Regions from separate parts of the Homo sapiens genome. Here region 2 is linked to region 1. Evidence: fine-mapped expression QTL. Tissue or cell type: lung. Region 1 holds a variant in brackets; the other region holds the start of a gene. All regions are shown on one strand. Distances are from middle to middle.

Evidence for each region. PIP is the estimated chance that this variant, and not a neighbour inherited with it, causes the effect. A credible set is the group of variants that fine-mapping cannot tell apart.
Region 2: FGD1 starts here. The variant in region 1 is the best candidate, but not a certain one, in a credible set for the expression of FGD1 in lung (TOPMed, PIP 0.82).

What each region holds. Positions count from the first base shown.
Region 1 is chrX:54,473,879-54,478,253 of GRCh38, forward strand. All of the region lies in intron 1 of FGD1 (FYVE, RhoGEF and PH domain containing 1), which reads right to left. Among named protein-coding and RNA genes, the nearest start is that of FGD1, 20 kb to the right of the region's middle. The variant C/T (reference allele first, on the strand shown) is at 2,016.
Region 2 is chrX:54,493,602-54,497,976 of GRCh38, forward strand. It overlaps FGD1 (FYVE, RhoGEF and PH domain containing 1), which reads right to left and starts at 2,633. Exons shown (of 18, transcript NM_004463.3): 1 at 1,525-2,633. The coding sequence starts at 1,831. RefSeq lists a silencer at 2,696-2,745.

The sequences.
Region 1 (4,375 bases):
GAGGCTGAGGCAGGAGAATCGCTAGAACCAGGGAGGTGGAGGTTGCGGTGAGCCAAGATCATGCCACTGCACTCCAGCCTGGGCGACAGAGACTCCATCTCAAAAAAAAAATATATATATATATACAGGAAGATACACATAGTTTATATGCAAACAACATGCCATTTTATATAAGGGACTTGAGTGTTGGCGACTTTGGTATCTTCAGGCTGTCCTGGAACCAATTCCCCATGGAGACCAAGGGACAACTGTCATTTACTATGTCATACTCATCTAACAAACACATCCACGGTGTCCCTGGGTCTTAGCCATAGGCCCAGGAATACACACACTGTGGGACACTTGCCTCCTCCTAAATAGTCACATACAAACTCTGCTGTGAAAACATACACACACAAAGACCTCTGCAGCCTCCCTTCCAGGGTCACACAGGCAGAAAGAGTCACAGGGGATTTTAGGTCTCCCAGTCCCGGAGGGAAGAAATAGCCCAACCCACAGGGTTCCAGCAGCTTCCCTAGGCCCCTGACCTCACCCCTGGCTACATCCCAGCCAGGTCCACCCCAGGGGACTCAGATCAGGGTCCTTTCCCAGCACTGAGGGAACAGGGTGCCCCAGGCCCCAGGCCGAGCGCCCCTCCCCAACTCTGTACCTTGCTTTGGGTGTCGTTCCTCACTTCCTTCCCCACCTAAGCTGGCAGGGCCTGGCCAGGATGGAGGAGGCGCTCCTCTCCACTCAGCTGTGCCGCTTACCCTGCCCTGCTCAGCACATCCTGGCCTGGTCTTGCCCTGCCCTCCCCCTGGGCGTGGGGGTGAGGAAGATGAATCACCTGGAGGGTGGCACAGGCGGAGATGTGGTTGGAGAGACACATGGCCAGAGCAAGGGAGAGAGACAGAGAGGAGCTGACAGGGCCAGAGAGGCAGTGAGTAAAGCCAGGCACCCTGCCATGCAGAGACCCCTCCTCAGATATACACACATAGGTGCCAGGGTCCCTGGTGCCCCTTGTCTGCCTCCTTGGGCCTGGAGGAGCCCACCTATCTCCACACCTCAAAGCAGGCAGGCCTCTCTGGGCAAGCCCTCCCTACCCTATCTGTAGCAAAGCAGCAGGGTCCCTGGATAATGCTGCTCTCCTTCTCCTCCAGTGCTGGTCCTCGGGATGGAGTGACCATACATCCCACTTTCCATGGCCCTGCCCTAGCCCACCCATTGCTCCCTCCTCACCCATCTCACCTGACAGCCCACAGACAGACCTGCCTCTCCATTCTCTCTGCCTCCTTGCAGGCAGCCCTGCAGGAAGAGGAGGCTGAATGAAATGCAAAGATTCCCTGGAGTCCCAGGTGAGAGGAAAAGAGATTGTCAGCCCAGTTTCTAGTGAGGAGATGGAGTCAGAGAGAGAGGCAGTGACTTGCCCAAGGTCACAGAGCAAATCAATGAATGGCACACTTTTGGGCAGACTGGTCATGGACTGGATTCCTTTCTTATTAACCCTGCTCTCCAAGGGCAAGCTGGAAAAGAGGGGAACCAGGAGGGGCGGGTGGACCCAACGGCTTCCGAAAGTCACAAACTGCAGTGTAGCTAGTCAGAGGGACACCCCTCAACCCTGTCCACAGGGAGTTGAACAGGGGTCCAGTTTAGGAGCCTAGGCCTGGCCAAGAACCAGGCTAGGTTTCACTGAGCGGGAGAAGGTTCAAGATCCCTCCCTCTCGTTTCAGAACTCCCTCTCCCTTGTCTCTCTGCCTACATTTCCCTGTCTCCTATTTTCCCTCAGTGGCCTCCTTGGCTCCAAGTCTTGCTCCCTCCAGGTGGCTGAATGAACTTACGTACAGTCCAGCTCAGATCATGCCACTTACCTGCACAAGAACCTTCTGTAACTCCCTACTGTCCATGGGAAAATAGAAACTTCTCAGCTAGGCCGGGCGCGGTGGCTCACGCCTTTATTCCAATACTTTGGGAGGCTGAGGTGGGTGGATCACCTGAGGTTGGGAGTTCGAGACCAGCCTGACCAACATGGAGAAACC[C/T]GATCTCTACTAAAAATACAAAATTAGCTGGGCGTGGTGGCGCATGCCTGTAATACCAGCTACCGGGAGGCTGAGGCAGGAGAATCGCTTGAACCCAGGAGACGGAGGTTGTGGTAAGCTGAGATCGCACCATTGCACTCCAGCCTGGGCAACAAGAGCGAAACTCTGTCTCAAAAACAAACAAACAAACAAACAAACAAAAACACCAAAAAAAGAAACTTCTCAGCTAGCTCTCAGTGGCCCCTCATGACCATGCTGAACTCTATGGCTTTCCTTGGCTGAGTTTGGTCTCCAGAATATTTTTGAACCTAGTAGACCCTGTGCTTGGAGATGAGAAAATCCCATCCCTGCCCTTGGGGAGCTCCCAGGGTAGGCCCCCCTCCTCCTTCCTAGAAACCACAGCCATTCCCACTGCCCCATCCCGTCCCTACCCAGCAAGGTCCTGGATTCATTTTCTCCAGCCCTTTTTTTTTTTTTTAAGACAGGGTATTGCTCTGTTGCTTAGGGTTAAGTACAGTAGTGTGATCAGGTCACTGTAACCTCAAATTCCTGGGCTCAAGTGATCCTCCCATCTCAGCCTCCCAAGTAGCTGGGACTACAGGTACTCACTACCATGGCTGGCTATTTTTAATTTTTTTTGTAGAGATGGGGTCCTTCTTTGTTGCCCAGGCTGGTGTCAAACTCCTGGCTTCAAGAGATCCTCCTGCCTCTGCCTCCAAAAGTGCTGAGATTACAGGCATGAGCCAGTGTGCCCAATTCCAGCCCATTTTTCTTGTGGTTGATAATCCACAACATTATCACACCCACACCCACACCTCCACACCTGACAAGATCCTCCACCAGCACTGCCCCTTCCATCAACGGATTTATAATTCCCCAATGCCCAGTAGAGCAGAGATCACCAAAAAGCCCCCGTCACACACATTTGGTCACACCACCAAATCTTTCTTATTTTTTATTTTTGAGGTGAGGCCTTACTATTTTGCCCAGGCTGGTGTCGAATTCCTGGGCTCAAGCAATCCTCCTGTCTCAGCCTCCCAAGTAGCTGGGACTACAGGTGTGTACCACCACACCCAGCCACCACCAAATCTGATAACACTTTGTGGAAATGTACCCAGCCACACACCAACTGTGCACATCCCTCAAAGACCCAGAGAGAGAACCACAGAGCTACTCATGTCTGTGTGCACCGTGCTCGGCACAACTGCACACACACAACCACCACTGCCACTCGGACATCTCTTGTCACCTAGGAAAGCATACTCTAGGCACCCCAGGAGTGCCAGTGCACTGTGCCAGCTCTGCTGTGGGGATGGGGGTGGGGTATGCACCCTTCCTGCCCCACTCTCAAACCCCTGCCCCCCCAGGCATTCAGCAGGCCAGAAGGGCAATCTTGACCCTTACCCTCAGGGAGCTCCCAATCTCAAAGACAAAGACTCTAACTCAGGAAAGGCAACGAGGGCGAGCCTGTGGGGACTGGGGAAGCTCAGTGGAGGAGAATGGATAGGGTGGCCAGATAAAATACAGGACACTCAGTTAATTTTTTTTTTTTTGAGATGGACTTTCGCTCTTGTTACCTAGGCTGGAGTACAATGGTGCGATCTCAGCTCACTGCAACCTCCGACTCCTGGGTTCAAGCAATTCTCCTGCCTCAGCTTCCCGAATAGCTGAGATTACAGGTGCCTGCCACCAAGCCCAGCTAATTTTTGTATTTTTGTAGAGATGGGGTTTCACCATGTTAGCCAGGCTGGTCTCGATCTCCCGACCTCAGGTGATCCACCTGCCTCAGCCTCCCAAGGTGCTGTGATTACAGGCGTAAGCCACCATGCCCGGCCACTCAGTTAAATTTGAATTTTAGATAAACAAGGAATGTTTTAGTATAATATGTCTCATGAATACTTATACTAACAATTTCTTAAGCTATACTTAAAAAATGACTTGTTGGGCCAGGCGCAGTGGCTCATGCCTGTAATCCCAGCACTTTAGGAGGCCGAGGTGGGTAGATCATGAGGTCAGGAGTTCGAGACCAGCCTGACCAACATGGCGAAACACCGTCTCTACTAAAAATACAAAAATTAGCTGGGCATGGTGGCAGGCGCCTGTAATCTCAGCTACTCGGGAGGCTGAGGCAGGAGAATGGCTTGAACCCGGGAGGCGGAGGCTGCAGTGGGCCGAAATCATGCCACTGCACCCCAGCCTGGGCGACAGAGTGATACCCCGTCTAAAAACAAAATGACTTATTGTATATCTGAAATTCAAATCTAATTGTATTAAATACTTTCTGAAGGCTAATTCTGGCAACGCTAGTCAGGGAAAGCTTCCAAATGAATGTGGCAGAGCCGGGCCTTCAAGACAGCACC
Region 2 (4,375 bases), 20 kb after region 1:
AAAGCCAATGCAAAAGTCCTGGGGTGGGAGTGCTTGTGGCCTGTTTTGGCAGCTGCAAAAAGGCACTGGCTTTACACAGTGTCAAGGGGAGTTTGGAAAGCCAGCAGAAGTAACATGCAGGCCAAGGTGTTAAGGGCCTGTTGCCAGCTGGTTATCTTCAGCCCACACTGAGGGAGCCCCCTGAAATCTCCCAGAGGTTCCATGACTAGCCCAAGGTCATGAAGGCACCAAAAGGCACATCCTACCCATGCTTTATACTTCACTACTGCTACCTGGTGCAAGGCCACGGTCCCAGAGATCTGTGGAGCCTGAGGTGTGAACCCGGGAGCCCCCAAGGGCTTAACAACTCCTTCAGTCCCAGTGGAAGGCAGGGCAGATGTGCGCTGCTCTTCTTCTGTGGCTCCTGGGCTCAGGCCCGTATGAGAATGTCCCCAGATGGGGAAGGTCCTGCTGTGCTCCTCAGACACTCAGGTCTGTGTAGCACAAAGGCAGTGGTCTGTGGCCTCAGCCTGACTTAAAGCTGCTCCACCTTTTCAAATCCAAGAAACCATCCTGATTTCACATCACAACCAACCTCGTGGACCTGCAGCTCTCCAGCTCCTGCTACAACTGGCTTCTGCCTCTGTTGGCTTTTCTGCTGTCTCCCTACCTATCAGCCCCTCCAGCCTTCTCCTCTAGCCTGACTCCCAAGGCCCACCTCTTCCACCTTTCTCTCTCAGCACCTTCTACTCCTTCCTTCCCTTGTTCTCCCGCCACACACACCTGGCAAAATCTCAACCTTGGATCAATCCACCGTCTTTCTTTTTTTTTTTTTTTTTTTTTTTTTCCGCTCATACTCCAGGGCTGCTGAATAGTACAGGAGAAAATCACATAAGCAGAAGGCTTGGCATTACTTTCATGGTCTCCAGCCTCAGTTTGGGGAAGCAGAAAGACCACAGACTTTGGACACAAACAGATCTGGTTTGAATCGTGGCTCCATACTAGCTGTGTGACCTTGGGCAAGTTGCTTAACTTCTCTGAGCTTCAGTTTCCTTCCCTACAAAATGGGACTAATGGTATCTACTTCATGAGGGTTCCTGAAGCTGAAATGAAAATCCATGTAAAGCACCCAGTCCAGTGCCTGGTACAATGTAGGCGCTTGGCAAATGTAAGGCTCCTTTTTTTCTTCTGTTCTCCAAACGAAACCCTGGTTTCCCCAACCAAATATCCAAGGATTGCTGCCTTGCAATCCTCCCTCTTTTTCTCGCGAGTGCTCCCTCTCCCATTAGCCTCAGCAGACAGAGGAGAAGGGGGTTGGAGAGGTTGAGGGGCACAAGGGACAGAGAGAGGAGATGGGGACAGAGGTTGAAAGGACTGGACATAAGGCCAAGGGACGTGGGGAGGAGGAGGGGTTTGAGGGAACCCAAAGGGCCGAGGTAAGCGAGCCTGTTCCGAGGTGGGGCTTAGAGGGCTCGAGAACAAGAACCCGCTCCCAGTACCAGGCCCGTGGCCCGGGCTCCCATGCTCTCTCAGTCGCTCACTCACCAGGCCGAGGCTGCGAGCCCTCCAGGTGGTAAGAGAAGCGCAGGGCCCGGTGGTGCTGTGGACTGGGACCGCAGGGCAAGACCCGGTGGCCTGGAGCAGCGCCCAGGCTGGTGTCCGAGGGTCCGACAAACTGGGGATCCAGTGGGCCGCCAAGAGCCGAACCTGAGCCCCTGCGCGCCAGCAGTCCGGGTTCCGAGGCTCCAGGGTCCGAGTCGGCACAGGCCGGCGGAGCGGCGCCCGGCGGGTTCGTGGCCGGGTGTTCGGGCTCCGAAGGCCCGGCGCCCCCCGGGGCTCGGTGGCCATGCATGGTCCGGGCCTGGGCGCGGGGCCCGAGCTCCCCGCTTGGCTCCAGCTCCTGGGGCGGAGGCGCGGGCGGAGGAGGCCCGGCGCCCGGCGGAGCAGCGGCCTCAGGATCGGGGGGCGGGACTGCGGGCTCAGCCCCACTGCAGAGACTCAAGCCCCCAGCCCGGGCCCGGGCCAGCAGCCGTGGCAGCGGTGGCAGTAGCAGCAGCAGCAGCCGCGGCCACCGCCGCTGCCGTGCCAGGCATCGCCGGCCCCGGCCCCGGCCCCGCGCGGGGAGTGGGCTCGGCGGGGCCGGGGGCCCGCTGGGGAGCGCTGTCTATGCGGCTGCGGTTGGGCGAGGGTTGGAGGGCTACGCTCGGCGGGGACTCTCCGGTGGACGGCGAGCCACTTCCGTGGCCCCGGGGCGAGAAGTCGGTCGGATCCAAGTGCGGGGTCTCTTCTTTCTCCCCGAATGGGAATAGATCTGGGCTCTCCTGGCTGGTTGGGAAGCGTTCTTCCTCCCGCCGCAGCCGAGGCCGGGGGCGGAGGAGAGGGGAGGGGAGAGGAGGGGAGGGAAGAGAGAACGGCGGTGGCCGGGGGCGCGCGTGTGCGCTGCGCTTGGGCTGCGGGGCTCGCCTTCAGCCAGTAGTCCCAGACGATGCTCCAGCCGCGGGGGCAGGAGAACGGCCTGGGCCGGGCTCCACCGTCCTCCCCAGCTTCAGCCTGGGTCTCGGCGGCGGCGGGCGGGAAGGAGCCCTGGGAAGGGGGGTGGGGAGGCGGGAGCCTCGCAGAGGCAGCCGCAGCCACAGCGGCACTGGGACCCAGTTACCGGGGCCCCGCCCCCTCGCCCGGGATTTGCGCCTGACCACGCCCCCTCGCTCGGGGCCGCCTCACTTCTCGCTGCTACCGCTCTCAAGGCCCTCCTGCCCCTTAAAAAATTCCCCCTCAGCCTGCTTTCCCCACAGGCAAGTCTCCGGGCTCAACCCCCTCCCCCCATATCTGCCCTTCCATCCCATCTCAGGTCTTCCCCCCTCTGCTTGCCGTTCACTCTCTTTTCCAAAACCCTTTCTTCATGTTCCTGAGTGTTCCTAGGGCTTGGCTCATAGAGGACCTGTCTCTGATTCTCCTTCACTTTGCTCAGACCAGATATCTTGGTCCCTTACTTAGTCACTTTCTTAAATACCCTCAGTTCCCTGATTTGTCGCATCCGCCTGGCAACATCCCAGTCTTGAATCGGTCCAACTGTCCGCCTTTTCCATGCCTGCGCCCAGGCAGCTAAACATTGCTGGGGAAAACTATTCAACTTCACAGATTTGTGCCACTATAAACCCATGGTTCCCAGCTTCTACCAGGCCCTCAGTTTTGACCCACAACCCTACTAGTCAGCTCTCCCTCTGTTCTCCACAGTGACCATTTCAAACCTTCTCCTTTCCCCTCAAACCCCAAGTGCTCCATCTGCCCTGTAACCCTCAGCAAATAACCTGACCTGCTGCAGAGAGTAAACAGAGCCACCGTAGAGGAAGCTCTTGACTTTTTGCTACGAAGCCTAGGAATTTGTCCTTGCTCCTTCCCAACAGCATCTAAACATAGACCTCTTCCATCTAAAAACAAATAAACAATTACCAAGAATTCTGCCTCTCCAACCACCTCCTTCTCTTCTCTTCTACAAACTTCTCAAAAGAGTTGCCTACACCCAACTGTCTTCATTTTCCCACCTCCCACTTATCTTTCAACCCACTCCAATCTGCCTCCACTACTTGCTTGAAACTGCTCTCTCTCATCAGGGTCTGCCATGAAACATCTCACTAAATCCCATAGAATCTTTTCTTTTTTTTTTTTTTTGAGACAAGAGTCTCACTCTGTCGCCCAGGCTGGAATGCAGCGGCACGATCTCGGCTCACTACAATCTCCGCCTCCTGGGTTCAAGCGATTCTTCTGCCTCAGCCTCCCGAGTAGCTACGCCCAGCTATTTTTTTGTATTTTTAGTAGAGACGGGGTTTCACCATACTGGCCAGGCTTGTCTCGAACTTCTAACCTTGTAATTCGCCGGCCTCTGTCTCCCAAAGTGCTGGGATTACAGGCGTCAGCCACCGCGCCCAGCCCCCATAGAATCTTTTCAGAGGTTATCCTACTTGGTTTCTTGATAGCATTTGGCACTGTTGACCACTCCCTCCTCCTTAAACCACTTCCATGACACTGCACTTTCCTTGTTTTTCTTCTACTTCCTTAGTAATTCTTTTTTTACTTTCCAGGCTCCTCTTTGTCCAACGCTTTATGCTGGTGCTCTTCAGGGCTTTGGCCTGAGCGCTCTTGTCCTCTCTCTACATGTGATTTTTTTTTCTTTCTTTCTTTCTGAGACAGAGTCTTGCTCTGTCGCCTAGGCTGGAGTGCAGTGGCGCGATCTAGGCTCACTGCAACTTCCGCCTACCGGGTTCAAGCTATTCTTCTGCCTCAGCCTCCCAAGTAGCTGGCATTACAGGCATGCACCACCAAGCCCGAATAATTTTTGTATTTTTAGTAGAGACGGGGTTTTGCCATATTGGCCAGGCAGGTCTCCAACTACTGACCT